2 separate regions of the Homo sapiens genome follow, and region 1 is linked to region 2. The links come from fine-mapping of genetic effects on gene expression. A gene starts in region 2. The other region holds a variant in brackets. All regions are shown on one strand. Distances are from middle to middle.

What was found.
Region 1: its variant is fine-mapped to the expression of DNAH8 in testis (GTEx, PIP above 0.99).

Annotation. Positions count from the first base shown.
Region 1 is chr6:38,779,577-38,787,576 of GRCh38, forward strand. It overlaps DNAH8 (dynein axonemal heavy chain 8), which reads left to right. Exons shown (of 93, transcript NM_001206927.2): 15 at 390-489; 16 at 1,678-1,797; 17 at 3,428-3,563; 18 at 7,189-7,376. Among named protein-coding and RNA genes, the nearest start is that of DNAH8, 68 kb to the left of the region's middle. The variant A/G (reference allele first, on the strand shown) is at 3,536.
Region 2 is chr6:38,709,977-38,720,180 of GRCh38, forward strand. It overlaps DNAH8 (dynein axonemal heavy chain 8), which reads left to right and starts at 5,335. Exons shown (of 93, transcript NM_001206927.2): 1 at 5,335-5,439. It overlaps DNAH8-DT (DNAH8 divergent transcript), which reads right to left and starts at 5,239. Exons shown (of 2, transcript NR_186581.1): 1 at 5,090-5,239; 2 at 4,194-4,322. RefSeq lists a silencer at 5,322-5,371.

The DNA.
Region 1 (8,000 bases), 68 kb after region 2:
GCAGAGGGAGAGTCAATGTGTTCTCTTCCATCTTTGCTAAGCCATCTCCTCACTCATCTTGTAATCTGTTTGTCATTTTCTCAGGGTGTCTTACTTGAATCCCCAGACTTGTCTAGGTCTCTCTTAGTTATAGGCATTTCTGACCCATTTGTAATTTAAATAATTATTTTTGTTACTCTTGGCAGATGTCTGTCTTTTCCATAAGATAATTGTGGGTTCCAAGAGAACCAGGACTGTACCTCCTATCTCGTTCATTGCTTTGTCCTAGGACAACGAATGAGGGCTGGTATGAATATTTGTCAAATGAATGAATGGATGGTTAGTATGACAGCAAGTCTTAAGTATATTTCTCATTTACTTTTTAACCATTCAGCTTTGATTACTTTTAGGTTTCAGAAGCTGAACATTCCCTGTCTGGGATTAGAAATAAACCACACAATAGAGCGTATTCTTCAGTACTATGTGGCTGAACTTGATGCTACTAAGAAGGCAAGTGTCATGTTTATAAATAAAATGGTACATTAGCACAAAAAGAAAAAAAATCTGAAAATATTTGCCATCATTGTCTCATGCCAAGCTTTTCAGAGTGATTCTTTCTCTGCTAAGGAGCATTGACGCTCCCTTCTGTGTGGGAAGGTGCTTGACAGTGTATATTGCTGGACAGCCAGATTTACTCCTCTTTGCTGTGATCTTACCAGTTATCCCACCATTATTTATTGAGTAGGAAGTCCTTTTCTCATTGTTTGTTTTTGTCATTGCTGAGTATGTACCCAAAGGAATACAAATCATTCTGTCATAAAGACACATGCACGCATATGTTCATTGCAGCACTATTCACAATAGCAGAGATATGGAATCAACCCAAATGCCCATCAATGGTAGACTGGGTAAAGAAAAGGTGGTAGATACACCATGGAATGTTATGCATCCAAAAAAAAAATGAATGAGATCATGTCCTTTGCAGGAACATGGACGAAGCTAGAGGCTATTATCCTAAGCCAACTAGTGCAGGAACAGAAAACCGAATACCACATGTTCTCACTTATAAGTGGGAGCTAAACATTGAGTACACATGGACACAAAGAAGGGAACAGTAGACACTGGGGCCTACTGGAGGGTGGGAGAAGGGAGAGGATCAGGAAAAGCAACTAATGGACACTAAGCTTAACACCTGGGTGATGAAAAAATCTGTACAACTAATCCTCATGACACGAGTTTACCTATATAACAAACAAACAAACAAACATGTAACCCTGAACTTAAAATAAAAGTTAAAAAAAAACTATCATATTGCCCCCGTTTTCTGGTGTGTGTATAGCAAAGCCCGTTTAAGTTAGTATTTTTGCCTATAGAAATATGGGCTCTAGATACTATTATGACAGATATTAATATGTAGCTATGTGCTCCGTTTGAATACCTCCTTGAAATTTGGGATAAGGGCAGAAAAAAAATACATGTAATAGGAAATAAAGGTGAAGAGAAAATTAAGTGTCGTATATGGTCAACATCATTGTTTCAAAATCTCAGGTTACCTTGGATGTGCATTTACATATTTATTGACTACCTACTGTATATAAAACATGAATAATGATAAAACAATACAAATATAGCTGTATATATTTTTTGCCTTCTCCCTTGTATTGAATTCAAACATTAACATCAGATTTTTAATTACAGCTTTATCATTCTCAGAAAGATGACCCCCCTCTTGCTCGCAACATGCCCCCTATAGCAGGAAAAATACTCTGGGTGAGGCAGCTCTATCGCCGGATAAGTGAGCCCATCAATTATTTCTTTGTAAGCCAAGAATTAAATTTTAATATGTGGATTTTGGTGGTTTTAATATAACAAATATATCATATCCTATAATATTTGTGTGCATTAAAGTAGCCAACAACGAGCCAATTCTTTTACCAGGCAAGGAAAATTTAGTTTATAAATATACTTGAGAGAGACAAAGTCAATTCCTTCAGGTTTAGTAGATAAGCCAGTCTAATTACAGTTATCTCAAAGTCAGTGAATCTTATAATTTTATGTCTTTTAATAACACAGGACACTTTGTAAAGCCTTTTAAAAAGTAAAAATAAAAAATTTGAAAACAATAAAGTACAGGCCTAGCACAGAAGCTTACTTCTGTGTATGGGCAGATAGGTCACTGATACATACTCAGTGAAGGTGAAGATAAAGCCAAAGAGTGTATTCCTGTATGAAGAACTGCCACTGAGAGCGGAATATAATACAGTTGATTCATTCTCTATGTCCTTCAGATTATTAGATTTCTGAAAAACAGGACAGTCTTGGGCCCTGTTGGCATTCTGAAATTGCCAGTTTGTCTTTTCTTTGTCCTTATTATTTTCTTAAATTTTATTTAAGAGACAGAGTCACAAGGTGGAGTTGGTTTGCTTGATCTCGTGCCCTTTGCTGAAATATAGAACAATATAACTACAAAACAGTAGTTTTGCAAGTAATTGTATTATTTCAGCATTATTAAATATGAAGATTCTGTTGTTTCTCTTTTGCTGCCATCATTTGTGTCATTGTTCTGAATATCAAAAAAAAATTAAAACCCTGAGTCCCTACTCGGGGGACTCAGTTGCTGATTGACTTTGTGGTGAGAGGGCAGAGATTGCCCTGTTTGACATGTGAATCGAAACCTAAATCTTTTGATTTTTAAATAAAGAAATTTTATTTATTTTTTAAATATTTATTTATTTATTTATTTATTATGGAGTTTTGCTCTCTCGCCCAGGCTGGAGTGCAGTGGCGCAGTCTCGGCTCACTGCAACCTCCGCATCCTGGGTTCAAGCAATTCTCCTGCCTCAGCCTCTGGAGTAGCTGGGATTACAGGCACCCACTACCATGCCTGGCTAATTTTTTTGTATTTTTAGAGAGACAGCGTTTCACTATGTTGGCGAGGCAGGTCTCCAACTCCTGACTTCAGGTAATCCACCTGCCTTGGCCTCCCAAAGTGCTGGGATTACAGGCGTGAGCTACGGCACCCGGCCAAGAAATTTTATTTTTATCGTTTGATACATGGTTACCTTTTTTTGCGTGCTGGAATTTAGGAATTTGCCCTGTTATTCATGGTTCAAGGAACATCAGTCAATTATATCTTGTCCAGAACAGTGGGATGGGATCAGAAAAGGAGGTAGAGACACTGAATGCCTGGGGCAGGCTGTGGGGCTGGAGGCCTCTCTCTTTCTAAACCCTTTGTTTCCTTTTCCAGTCTTCCCTCTATATACTGATAACGTTTCCCTACTTCTGCTTCTTGCTGATATGGCCTTCCCCATCTCTGTTTTACTGTGAGGCAGAATCTAAACTGGTAGCATAATTATTTGATATCATTTTACATATAAGTACTTTCATTATTTGGATATAAAAACATTCAGCAGTCTTTTAAAGTAAATCTTTTCCCTTAAAAAAACAGAAAAACTCAGACATTTTATCAAGTCCGGACGGTAAAGCTGTCATCCGTCAGTATAACAAGATCTCCTATGTGCTGGTGGAATTCGAGGTGGTCTATCACACAGCCTGG[A/G]TCAGAGAGATTTCACAGTTGCATTACGGTGTGTATAACACTGCCATGAGCCTACAAAGTAGGGATTAGGTGATTTTGAATGAGTTCATAGTTCTGGAGAACTTTTTCCATCCCTTCCACATAATCTTAGGATAGTTACAATTTAGATTTAGGGATGCTACAGTGGTTTATTTGTTTACAGTTGTTAATAATATTCTGATTTTATAAGTGAAAATGATCATGACCTTGAAGATGACATACTTAACTTAGGACTTTCTACCAAAAACCAGTATTTGAAAGTAAAAATATCTTTAGGGATATTTCTCCAGACTTTATGAAAGTGTTCATATTCAGTTGTATCATGATATAGATTCAAATCTCAGTCCCATTCTGGAGAGAAAAAATTGCATCCTGCCTTCTTTCCTCTCTCCCTGCTTCCCTTCCTTCCTGTGTCTCTCCTTTACTTTCTCCCTTTTTTATTACTGAATTTAATTTCAGGTTTGAGCTCCAGTAAATGAAGCGTTTTAGTGCACTGTGTCTGCGTGCCTCTGAGGGGAGGGCTTATGTGTTGCCAAGGCTTTGGGCGGAGTTAAATGTGAGACGGGATGGTTCTTAGCCATTATCCAGCCCTCCTGGATGTTGTTTTTGTGTGGGCTCAATGGTTGGTCAGTTCAGATTCCTGCTTTGTCTCATCTTAACCTTAAACTCTTAGTTATAATCTCAACCCTAAACTCTTATACGTGACCTTGGTGGACCCCTTACTGGGTCCCTTGGTAGAAAGGTTTCTCCCTCCCAAACCAGCGTCTCCACCTCAGCAGAGCACAGCATTGCAGGCGCAGGAAGCACAAGTTCTGCAGGTGGGTTGCTGGAACGGTGGTGAGAGGAGTCACTCCTACTTCTGCCTCTTGGTTCCAGAACTCATGTATTTTAGCTGTGTGGGGACACAGCACTTATTTACAGGCCATTGATTCACAGCATACCTGCATCCTAGAGGACAGTGCCCCAACCCCCGCAGGGTGTCGTCCCTAACAGGAACCGTAGGTAAGCCTTTAATAAGCCACTTTTATCAGGCCAGCTGTTTCTGGGTGCTGTGCTATATGGTAGGACCCTGTGGACTCTAAAGAAAGCCTGTTTATGGAGCAGAACTCTCAAAGGAGCTTCGAGAGGAGCTTAAAACTCAGACTATGGAAAAAGGCAAAAGAGAATTTTTAACAACTGAAGCATATACTGGTTTTGTTTTGGTTCTACAATGCCGCGCACTTAATTTTCTTTTTCTCCTGGTGGTTTTTCTACCCCCAATACCCTTTCTCTTATCTGCACATATTCAAAAACAAGCTCTACAGTCACCTGTTTCATACAGCCTTTCCTTATTCTTCCTGGCAGAAAATAATAATTCCTCCAGAGCCCACCATATACTTTATCTGTAGCTCTTTCTCAGGACACTTACTGCTTTATAGATCTACCTTGTGTCCCCTACACCTTCCAAGGTTACCCTCTATGTCTGTTTCATCTGATATCCTTTAAAAAATGGTCATAGCTAACATTTATACAGTGCTCACCATGTGCCAGGCTTTGTCTCAGCACATTACATGTATTATGCAAATTACTTTAATCCTAACAGCAAACCTACAAGGAACTATTATTAGCCTTGTTTTACAGATGAGAAAACTGAGACACTGACACATTAAGTGGCTTGCCCAAGATCACACAGCTCATTCAAATTCAGATAGTCTGGCTTCCAAATCCGTTCTCTTAACCATTTAAAATACTGTACTGTTTCTAACAGTGTCAAGAATGATGCCAGGCATGCTTGGGGGCTCTTAAAATATTTTAAAAATGTCCAATAAGTAGACATTAGACAATCTTGATGAGTAATAATTTTATCAAGTTTTCAGAAGAGTTTGTTCCCCTTGAGAACATCAGTTGGCCTCTATTGGGTGCACTATACTCATTGCAGTGGATTGATGTCCAGGAGAAGTGATCACATACAAACAATATGAAGTAGAATTCTTTCATACTTTCAATATGAAGTAGAATTCTTTCGTGTTTTTTCACAAGTAAAACAAACAGTCAGTAGAATTCTTTAACTTCTTTCATTTCATTTCAGAAATGAATTGCTCTGGAAGGCTTCCTTTGTCCTAGTGATGTGACTGTACTTGGCCACATAGGAGCTTCTAGTAATAATTGGATATGTAGCATCAGCCTCCTTTAGTTGGTTGCTCAGTAAAGTTTCTCTGATGGTGGTTCACATACGATGAAATGCTTGTCTTGTCCTGGAGCAGACTTCCTGACTGTCATTATTGGTCTGTTTTAGTTGTCTTGACCTTTTTGTCTTTTCAAGCAAGCTCAGTACAGTTTTAAGGAAGACAGATTTAAATGTTCAAAAGTTCTTTTGGAATTTCCTTGGTAGGATAAGTGATTTATTTATTTATTTATTTTTATTTTACTTTAAGTTCTGGGATTTCTGCACCTGTCCACCTGTCATCTAGATTTTAAGCCCCGCATGCATTAGGTACTTTGTCCTAATACTTTCCCTCCCCTTGCTCCCCACCCCCCGACAGGCCCTGGTGTGTGCCGTTCCCCTCCCTGTGTCCATGTGTTCTCATTGTTCAACTCCCACTTATGAGTGAGAACATGCAGTGCTTGGTTTTCTGTTAGGATAAGTGATTTCTAATCCATCTTAAAAAGATTCTAAGCGAGTTGGATAAAATTTTAAGTTGAAATTGTCATTTAGCTTGAAAACCTGCATCATTAAGGGCCATATCAAGACTAATTTTATCTGATGAGTAAAAGTCAACTAACTTCAAAGAGATATACAAACTATTTTATTTTACTAGAAGTTTGATGTGGCCACATTCAACAAAACAATGTGAGGTTTGGAAGATTTGGTAATTGTGATAAAATTCTCATGTTAGTAGTGTTTGTTAATACAAGATGTAATTCAAACTAGCACATGCTTGTCTATAATAAGTGTTTTATTATTATGCCTGTAGAAGTTCTTCATGTTAAGCTAACAAATAATCTAAGGCTACCCAGTAAGAACTGCTTGGGCTTATGTATTTCAATTCATAATAAAATAGATATCTGAAAATGCTTGTTTATATGAATGATGTTTATGTGAGATGTAGTGTAAAACATCTTCCCTCCTTTCCAGGATTTCACAACTCAATGGTATTTAATAAATATTTCTTACTGATTTTGAGCCTATTTATCAGAAATACAGGATGGAGATTTAATTTAAATAAGCCTCTTTAAAGAAGACAGTTTGGGGTCTGAGTGGGAAAGAGTTTGAAATGAGGTGGGGCATCTTTTGTGATTCTAACCATCTTCTGGTTCTTTCTCAGGGGTGAAGTCATAATCCATAAGATAAACTGACATAGACCTATTCAACCCACTCAGAAAAATATTGCAATTCATAGCACAAAGCACCATTCTTGGTCAATGTTTCTCTCCCTGGATCTGATTTTGTGGCTTTGCAGACACTCTTCATTCATTTATCTTAGTTTTGAGTATTCACTATGTGCCAGACGCTGTGCCTTAGCACCTGGGGCATCCAAAACATTTCCTTTGCCCTCAAGAAGTTAGTAATCCAGGGGGCAAGACAGAAATATAAACACAGCTGGAAGCAGAAAGGAAATTCAGAATGAGTAATGTCAATCATTATTTATTTGTAGCTTTACAAGCCACGCTTTTTGTGCGACATCCAGAAACAGGGAAGTTGCTGGTTAATTTCGATCCCAAAATTTTGGAAGTTGTTCGGGAAACTAAGTGTATGATAAAAATGAAGTTGGATGTACCAGAACAGGCAAAGAGATTGCTAAAATTGGAAAGTAAATTGAAAGCAGACAAACTGTATTTGCAGGTAAGATAGATTATGTTTTCTAATTATTTTTGAAGGAGTTTTTTGGTAAAAAAAATATGTATATATATATATATATCCCTGCAGTTATGCTTCATGGCATTGAGGGAAAATTTGTTAATATGTTGATTCTTGATAGAATTAAAATACTGACTTGCAAACCAAAGAAAAGATTGGAAATGGAAAGCAAAAAGTGAGAAGATTATCAGAAATCAGATTTAGGTTTCTGGATAATGACTGACGAAATAGCAAGTTTCAAAAACTATTCTTAATATAATTTTATAGATCTTGTGCATTAAATTTTATAATATACTTATCCTAGAATATTTATAAGATATAAATTAATAAAGTGGGGTGACTATACAATACAAGTAGAGGTGATTCTCAACATTGTGGGGCAAAAAGGAGCATTATTTCAATTAAAGTTCACTAGTGCGGCAAAGTAAAATCTAACAAAATGAAAATGGTAGGCAAAAACTGACATTAACATGTACTGCCGGGTGCAGTGGCTCATGCCTGTAATCCCAGCACTTTGGGAGGCCGAGGTGGGTGGATAACTTGAGGTCAGGAGTTCAAGACCAGTCTGGCTAACATGACGAAACTGGGTGTGGTGGTGCACGCTTGTAA
Region 2 (10,204 bases):
AGGGCATAAAACCCCTCGTAGCCTCTGGAATGTGCACAGACTTGTTGGTTGCTCTCCCAGGCTCGTAAACATGTTCTCCATTATCTCAAGCAGCAGAGTATATTCTATATGTGTCAAAGAAAATGCTAAACCATCACAGCTATGCTTCATGCACCGCTACCTTTCTACCCCCACGTCCTCACGCCCTCACCTGTTTACCCCCATGTCCTCACGCCCTCACCTGTTTACCCCCACATCCACATGTCCTCACCACCTGCTTCTTTGTTTGATCACCAATAAATAGTGTAGGATCCCAGAGCTCAGGGCTTTTTCAGCCTCCATACCAGCATTGGCCCCCGGACCCACCTTATGCACTCTTAACTTGTCTTTTCTCATTCCTTTGTATGGGCAAAGCCCAGGACCCCGGACTGGGGAGAAATGGAGGGACAGTTTTAGGAAGTGTTTGTGTAAGCAATTTTAGAATGAAGTCAGAAGAAAAAAAAAGAACTACATATAACTTTCTAAATTGCTGTGTTGTTTTTCTAGTAGAATGCTTGCCTTTGTATAATGATGATTGCTTGATTGTTAAACAGTAATCAGGTTATTAAAGCAATAATGAAGGACTGAGCCAGTCACCATGAGGTTTGGCTGCCAGTGAGAGTTAACAGCGTTTGATGTGCTTTCCCCTGCAGAGAGCCTATAGACGGACATGCAGGATGGGAGGTGACACATCACCCATATTCCTTTCTCAGGAAGGCATAAGTATTAAGGCCCTGGGAGAGGAATGCATCCCTTATGGAGAGCCTATAAATGGATGCATGAGGGATGTCTGTTTGGAAGTGAAAGCTTCAGTGGTTGAGATAAGGGCGTAAAGCTCTTCTTCTCCCACCACTCTCCTAGGCCTGCCCAGGGGCCCCTCCCCCAGGGAGAATTGTGGTCAGACTGGTCGTCTGGTTTCATGTCCCGTTCTTACTTGCCTACTGCGCAACCATCTTAAACATAGTTTATAGTTAAAGCCTGATCCTATTAAATTGCTGATGCATGCAACTAGCAGTTGGAACTCACAGTTCCGTATATCCGTACATCTTTACTGTGGACCTCACCCTATAATCATGTGATCCTCTCACCCCATGATCAGACCACCCTCTGCTCACTGCCCTTGCTCCCCCTCCCACATGTAAACTGATAATAAATGCTGGCTATTCCAGTGCTTGGATGACATTGCAGCTCCACATTGCGGTGATCCCCCTGGACCCAGCTTTCACAAACTCATCTCTGTTTGACCCACCTGGGATAAGAAAGAGAATCCATGTTGCTGGCGGGGCTGGTTCCCACTAGACCTTTGACTCCGCTGGACTTTGTAGCCCCCACGGCCTGGTGTTGGGTCTGATCACCCCAACAATTTCACCTTGAGATTTTTTACTTCATTACATCTTCAAAGATTTTTTTTTTCCAAATAAGGTCACATTCACAGGTCATGGTAATTAGGACTTAGACATATTGCCGAGTGCGGTGGCTCATGCCTGTAATCCCAGCACTTTGGGAGGCCAAGGTCGGCAGATCACCTGAGGTCAGTAGTTCAAGACCAGCCTGACCAACATGGTGAAACCCTGTCTCTACAAAAATACAAAAATTAGCCAGGCGTGATGTTGTGCACCTGTAGTCCCAGCTACTCAGGAGGCTGAGGCAGAAGAATCACTTGAACCAGGGAAACAGAGGTTGCAGTGAGCTGAGGTGGTGCTATTGCACTCCAGCCTGAGCAACAGAGTGAGACCTCCGTCTCAAAAAAAAAAAAAAAAAGACTTGGACATATTTTGTGGGGGGTACACAATTCAACCCATTACAAGGGACGTATACATGGCTTTTCTTTTTCATTGGTAATAATTTAAGATTAGGAAATCTGAGAATATGTTTAAAATACTTTTATGATTACATTTATTTTCCTTAATGAACATCATCTTATTAGTTGTGTAAACCAAAAATAAAATTGTAACCCCCTGCACCCTGCCGCCCCAACCATCTGAATGGACCCTTCCCCTCAGCCAAGGGTATGAAAAGGGTTATTGTGTCTGCACTCCATGAGACATGTATAAGAGACATGGTTTGAATAGCAAAAAAAAAAAAAGGAAGAAAAAATTGATAAAGGCTAAATGTCCAACCATAGGAAAATAGATAGGTTGAAAACTAGTGCAGGCCATGATGGAAGGAGGGGTTGGACATGCCTCATTATACCCTCATCCCTCTTGGAATTACTGGTAAGACACTCTTTAAGTCTGATAAGAAACATTTACAATCTATTTTCTCTGAAGCCTGCTACCTGGACCCTTCAACTGCATGATAAAACCTTGATCTCCACAACCCCTTATTGTAATCCACACATTTCTTTCTATTGATAATAACTCTTTCAACCAATTGCTAATCAGAAGATTTTTAAATCTACCTGTGGCCTGGAAGGCCCACCCCCATGTATTATGTCTCCCTAAAATGTATAAAAGCAAGGTGTAACCTGGCCACCTTGGGCACATGTCATCAGAACCTCCTGAGGCTATGTCATGGGTCCATCCTTAACGTTAGCAAAATATTTGCAAAATAAACTTTCTGAATTGATTGCAACCTGTCTCAGATACTTTTGGGTTCACAGTTGCTTAGGTTCTTATTGTCAGGTTTTTCAGGTTTCTGCACTGGCAGAGATTTTTGTTTGCAAGTAGAATGGACCACACTAAACAAGATATAAATGTGCCATTACAGCCACAAACTGATAATCCTTCAAGAAAAGCTCAAAGGAATGAGCTGTGGATAGTTATTTAATATTATATATGTTTTACTTGAATAACTGGTTACTTAAATTGTTATTTGATAATATGACCATGTGGTACTTTAGGATAATTATAACATAGCAAATATTGCTAATCTGTGCACCTTAATTGCATATTCCCTACAACACCTAGACATTTCCAATTGGTTGTTTTGACATTTTTATTTCGGTCAATAGTATCATCTTCCTCTCAATTGATGAGGCTTGAAACCAAACTCGTCATAGAGTTAGACATTTTTCGAACTGGAAGGGAACTTAGAGATTATCTCAACTCCCCCATTTCTTTTTACAAATAAGGACATCCAGTAATAGAGCAGTTTCACAATCTGAGGCTTAGTCGACTAAACGGTTATTTGTTGAGTAGCACAGTAACAGGACTCAGTTTCCCTGATTACCGGTTCAGTATTTTTCTTCACTACACACACTAATACTAAACTACTACAAATAACAGCTAGCATTGATTTAGCCATTACCATGTACTACTGTGCTAAGTGTTTTTATATGTGTTCCCTCATTGTATTTTCGGGGACACTTAATACTCAGGATCGTGGGCACTTAATGTCTTATATAAGTGCTGCATGGGGTTTACCTTCTGTTAAGCCTCAAGAGAACTCTGTGGAAGGTACAGTTTTCCTGTATCTCAGGCATTCTCAGGGTTGCTATCATTTGGCAGTATTCCATGAAGCTAGTTTTCTGCCAGAGTTAATGAAACTATTGCATGGATCACGGTGCTACAAACCTAATACAGCAACACATGTCTTTAGAACCAAAGCTCTGTCCATATTTAGTATTATTTCTTAGGAATATATTTTCAAAAGAGGCATTTGTAGGTTAAGGCATATGAATGAATATATTTAAGGCTCTTTATTAAGGAATATGGTATTCTGGTTTGTTTCTTACTACATGAGAATAGAGAGACAGCATAGGGACAGGAAAAGAAGGCAAGTATAAAACCTGCCCCAGCTCCATCAGTGCCAAAAGTAAACAATGAGATTCGATGGACAAGAGGTAGAGCACTTGTCCTCAACACTACCTCAACAAATGGCAGGAGTATCATATGGGAGGCCGGTTCCCCCAACCCCAAGTCCCAATGGGCAACCCCGTGGACCCAGATGCAGGCAGTGGACTGGGAGGCAGGTAAAGAATCTAGGGCTAAGTGCTCAGTATCTTTTGTATCGAGCAGTAAACAAGCTAGTCCCTCTCCCCAGGAAGTGAGCAATTGTGCCTTTTCGTGCCGTGGTTGCTGTGGCCTGCTGAGTTGCCTAAAGATTGGTTAAGGAAGTGGCTCAGAGTTAGAGGGTAGGTAGGTCTTGCATTTCGGCACAGTCAGCAAGGATATTCAGGAACTCCCTTGCTCCCATAAGCTTATATTGTATAATCACTGAGTAATGTCTATTAATATGGATGGACCATGGTTTATTTAATTTGTGATTTTTTATATTCATTCTTGTTTTTTTTTTCAGTTGACAGACCTTTCAGTCCTCATTCCACATTGATCTGCTCTACATTCAAAGACTGACTTTCACACCTGTAAGACAAAATAGTTTATGTAAGAAGCTATATTTGCTCATTCTGCTTGCCAGCAGAATGTCAGAGAATTCTTTGGCAGCTACATTTCACAAATCCCCTAACTCAGTGACTAAGTGCAGCCCCTGGAAGAATGCCCCTGAAGATGATAACATCTCTTGCATGAATCTTTTCTTGCAAAAGTTCCAGGATCCTAACTCATGCCTCTTCCTGTACATAATAAGATAATAGCTGATAGGATTAATGATTATGCCTCTACAATCTATAACCAGATGTACCCTTGAACCCCACCCTTGATGAGATTTTGCTCTAATGTAACTGCTGAGCTCATTTGATGTAACTGCTGAGCACATCTGATGCCACTTCCCATCACATGCCACCACCTGTACCTAAGCTTTGGAGCAGTCTCACAGAAAGTCTCTGAAAGACTCTCCGGATTGCAATCCTTAGTAAGACATCTGAATAAAACTAATATTAATTATTTAAATGACTGATTTTTTTTTCTTTGGTTAACACACCCAACTAAAAACGGACCGCTCACATCATGTCAGGCAGTCACAGCAAAAGCAGAACCGTACTAGAGAGGGGAGGGGGTGGACTTGGGAGAGAAGTCAGTTTTCCCCCAGAATCTTTCTCTCTCATCAGTCACAGGTTTCTGAACACACTGACTCACCAGGAAACACTTTTTAGGTTCTCAAGGAAAACACTAAGTAACTTCAGAAACTGTAAAGGTCATAGAAAACATTATTTTATATATTTCCGTATTACCACGTATACGCGGGAATCCTCCCAAGCCCCTGGCACCGCACTCCAAATGTCCATCTCCAGGAACCCGCCCTTCAGTGCCTGGGGTCCCCTAAACAATGTTTCAGTCCTCGGGCTCGGTGGGTGCATCCTTTATTGGGGAGCGCGGGGGCTGCCCGTGCCCCTCCAGTCGCTCCCCGTAGGGAGCTGCGCACTGCGGAGCCCTCGCCCCCGAGCGAGCCTGTCTCGGACTCCCAACCGTCAGCCTCGTTCCGGGCCGCGGAGGCCGGAGCAGCTCCCCCGGGGCAGCGCAACCGCTGGGGCCGGCCTCAGTGGGCTGAGTGGTCGGGGCATCGGGGCCCAGAGAGCGGCTGGTGAGTACTTGGTCGGAGCGCGCTGTGAGCGCCCGGCCCCTGTCCGGGAGGCCCTGATGCAGCCGGGTTCCCCGCCCACTTTCCTTCTTTTTAGGGGACTGGAATCCACGCTACAGTTCAGTCCTCCACCTCTGTTAGTTGAACCCAGGGAACCCCTGCTTCAAAACCCCAGCTGAGTCACTACCCTTTGTCAGTCTCTACACTGGACATCTAAGTGACTTCACACCCACTCCCCGTTTTGAGACTAGAAAACCAAATACCGCACGTTCTCACCTATGAGTAGGAGCTAAGCTATTGCTACGCAAAGGCATCCAGAGGGGTATAGTGGACTTCGGAGACTCAGAAGGGGAAGGGTGGGAGGGGGGTGAGGGATGAAACAACTACATATCGCTTGCAATGTATGCTACCTGGATGACCCTGAAGTCTCAGACTTCACCACTATCCAATGCATCCATGTAAAAAAACCACCTGTACCCGAAAAGCTATTAAAATAAATAAATAAATAAATAAATATATATATATATATATATATATATATATATATATTTTTTTTTTTTTTTTGAGACGGAGTCTCACTCTGCCGCCCAGGCTGGAGTGCAGTGGTGCGATCTCGGCTCACTGCAATTTCTGCCTCCCTGGTTCAAGCCATTCTCCTGCCTCAGCCTCCCGAGTAGCTGGGGCTACAGGCACCCGCCATCACGCCCGGCTAATTTTTTTTGGTATTTTCAGTGGAGACGGGGTTTCACAGTGTTAGCCAAGATGGTCTCGATCTCCTGACCTTGTGATCCGCCCACCTCGGCCTCCCAAAGTGCTGGGATTACAGGCATGAGCCACCACGCCCGGCCATATACCTATATATTTTTAAAAATTCAAAAATAAAACAAAAAAAATGCCTCTCCCTCCGGCTTATTTCCCGTTCCTCTACCCTTCTCATTCCCCTCTAGCCCAAAAGTCTCATCACTGAATTTACCACTTTTCCCAAGATAGTTGTGCCTCTTTTTGCTTCTCTGCTTTTGTACGCCACTGTTCCCACCTTCTGCCTATAATGTTTCTCTCTCCCATCCTCTCCTGACAACTCTTCTTTAGACCCGACTCGGGTGGTACCTTCTCCGTCAAGTTTTCTTTCTTTCTTTTTTTGTTTTTCAGAAGTTTTGCTGCCTGCTAAGCTCTCTTAGCCCTTCGTTAATTCACCTGTCATTGACATTGACCATCTTGTGTTGTATTCAATAGTCTGTCACACCAATTTGATTGTGCATTTTGCTTTGGAGAAGTCCTTAGTCTTTTATGTAGCCACAGTGGCCAGACATGCAGAAGACGTTCAATATTGCTGAATGAACTAATGCATTTGGGATAGGGTTACAGAAATGGGTGCAAGAGAAAAGGGTGTGGTTGAATTGGCTGTACCCAGCACACAGGTATGCAACTTGCTCACTTACTGTAGTATTCCTAGGAGGGGAGGAGTTCAACACCTGGAAATGCTCCTGAAAATAACCAGGATGCATTTCTTGTTGACTTTGCAGAAGTTCACTGAATCCTTAAAATTTAACTTAAGAAGGGATGGTGGGAATTGAAAATGATTGCATCCAGCCTGGGCAGCATAGTGAGATCCCATCTCTACAGAAAAACCAAAACCCAAACCAAAAAAGAACAGCCAAGTGTGATTGTGTACGCCTTTAGTCCTAGCTACTTGGGAGGCTGAGGTAGGAGGATCGCTTGAGCCCAGGAGGTGAGGACTGCAATGAGCTGTGCTCACATGACTGTACTCCAGCCTGCACAACAGAGCAAGTTGTCTGTGAAGGAGAGAAGGACCCAGAGAAAGTGAACAAGTGTTGATGCCACATTCACTCTGTGTGCTTTGCATCAGCAGAATGTGAATGCTTGGGGGTAGATTCGTAGGGAATTTCAGGTCTTATTTATTTATTTTTTAAGATAGGTTCTCACTCTGTCACCCAGACTGGAGTGCAGTGGCGCCATCTTGGCTCACTGCAGCCTTGACCTCCTGGGCTCAAGCTATCTTCCCTCCTCAGCCCTCGAAGTAGCTGGGACTACAGGTGCACGCCACCACGCCCGGCTAATTTTTTGCATTTGTTGTCAAGACTGGGTTTCTCCATGTTGCCCAGGCTAGTCTCAAACTCCTGAGCTTGAGCTCAGGAGTTTGTATGTTACAGTATATGATATGCACAGATGTAATACAACTAAAATGTACACATGATTTTTTTTTTTTTTTTAGAAAAGAACCATACAGAAAGTTAGGAAATTGGAAAGTAAAAATTCTTCTTCTACTTCCCTTCTTCAATTTCTTTCACTCAGAGTGATTCTTATTAATAATTTATTGTGTATTCTCCCTAGAAAGCTTATAATGTACTTTATCAAATCTAAACTATTACTGATTACAATTTTTTTGCAATTCTGTACATGCAAATTAGGTATTTTATGTAACTGCATAAAGAAAAAAATGCTGAGAAACAAAAAAATGCTGCATATTAAACCTTCTTAAAGTATGCATCTTAGAATTGATGAAATACCGTATATACACATATACACACTTTAAAAATTTTATGCGAGTGGTGTTATTATGCAATGTGTCTTGCTTTTTATGTAACGATGTGTCTTGGAGAGTTTTACATATCTGCATATATAGCTCTACCTCATTCTTTGTATCGCTAATGATGCATTAAAATTTTATTGAACAAGGGTAGTACAGAACAATTAGTGGGCCCTTCATTAAGGGACATCTTGGTTGTTTCCAAGGTGTGGGTATGTGTCTGTGTGTTTTCTTGCTTGTTTTTGCTATTACAAACATGTTGTAGTGAACCACCAACCTTGTGTGTATGTGTGTCTGTATATATATTGTATATCTATCTATATATAGTTGGTAAGATTTTTTCATTTTTGCTACAGTTTTTAGGAATTCCTCTATATAAAGTAGTTGCATACATCTTCTAACCTAAAATTAAATAATTGCATCACTCTTATAAGTTGATAAGTTGATCTTTTAGTATTTAGAGTTTGTTACCTGCCAAGCAATATTTGACACTCAAAAACCATGTAGAAAATGCATCTCAAATTACAGTATTTCATTAGAGGGAAAGTTATATGATTTCCTTAAGGAAAATCTCTCCAAAATGGCAGTGGTCATGTATTTATATATTTATTTTGGGAATCTTAGCTATATGATCTATTTTAACAAAATTTAAACTATAACAAATTATTTATAATTTATTTTTTTCTGAGTCACAATAGGGATTAATCCCTGATTATCAATTTTCAGTGTTCACAGACACTTGTATTCGCAGAAACAGAGTCTGTATGTCAGTGTTCACAGTCACAAAAGTCTGCTTGTATAAAAACCACATTTATTATTTATCTTAACAGATTCTGAATCCTTGCTGTTTGTGGTCTTTTGGAAGAATGAATATGATATGATGTCGTTCTAAACTTTTTTTCCCAACCAAATTTTCCCTGCTTTGACCTGTTCATAGCTTTTTATAGTTTACCTCTTTACTTCTCTGTTTAAATTTCTTCCCTCTGCTTCTTGTTGACTCCTACTTATCCTTTAAGGCCAACTAATGTTCAAATCCTCCATGAAATCCTCTTTGTCTATTTTGTCCACGTTTCTCTCTTCCTTCTTTAAATTCCTTTTTCAGCAGAACATCACAATTTAACATTCTTGATTGATTCATATAGGTTACTTTATCTCCTAAATGAGACTGAATTCTTCAGGAATTCTTGTCTGGGCTGGATTTCAGGCAAGACATCTAGGGGGTGCTACATTAGCTGTGGTTGCTGAGCACTTGTGGCTTGAAGTAGTCTTTTTTTCTGACTTTTATTTTGGATTCAGAGGATACATGTGAAGATTTCTTACAAAGGTTTATTGCATGATGCTGAGGTTTGGAGTATGATTAAACCTGTCACCCAGATAGTGAGCATAGTACCCAATAGGTAGTTTTCCAACCCTAACCCCCATCCTTCCCTTCCCCTTCTTGTACCCCCAGTGTCTCTTGTTTCCATCTTTATGTCCATGTATCCCCAGTGTTTAGTCCCTACTTATAAGTGTGAACATGAGGTATTTGGTTTTCTGTTTCTGTGTTAGTTCACTTAGGATAATGGCCTCTAGCTGCATACATGTTGCTTCAGAGGACATGTGTTTTTTTTATGGCTGCATAGTATTCCATGGTATATATTTCTTCATCCAATCCACTGTGAAGTTGTATTCTTAAGACAAGAGGCAGGGCTTCTCCAGAGACCTGGAGGGGGTGTAGCTAATGCAGCTGATCATTACAGCTCATTCCCTCTAGCATCAGAGGAATGCCTGGGCTGCTGTTTCACAGATAGACGCCTATTCTGCCCAGCATTAGAGTTGCCACCAAAGATTTTTACTGCGAATGGGCTAACCATTAAGCTGCAGCCCTAAAACCCTACCAAGCTCAAAAATGCACCCTGACATTGTGTTTCAAAATGGTGGCACAGAAGCAAGCTGGCTGTTTCTTCTCCCTTACCACCAGAAAATGGAAACAAATACACAATGTTAAGATTATCACCAACAATATCCCAAAACTCAGATATAAGGATGAGATCATTTCCAGTACCACAGAGAAGTGAAAAAACCTCTAAGCAGATGGTAAGAGAATTGGACTTTCATAGCATGACACTCCTTACCTCAGTCTGCCTGGCACCAGGCAAATGGAAAATTTCTCCCAGTCTTACGGTTTCTCTAATGGGAAAAGTGAGATTGAAGTGGACAACCAACTTTCCTACCATCCTG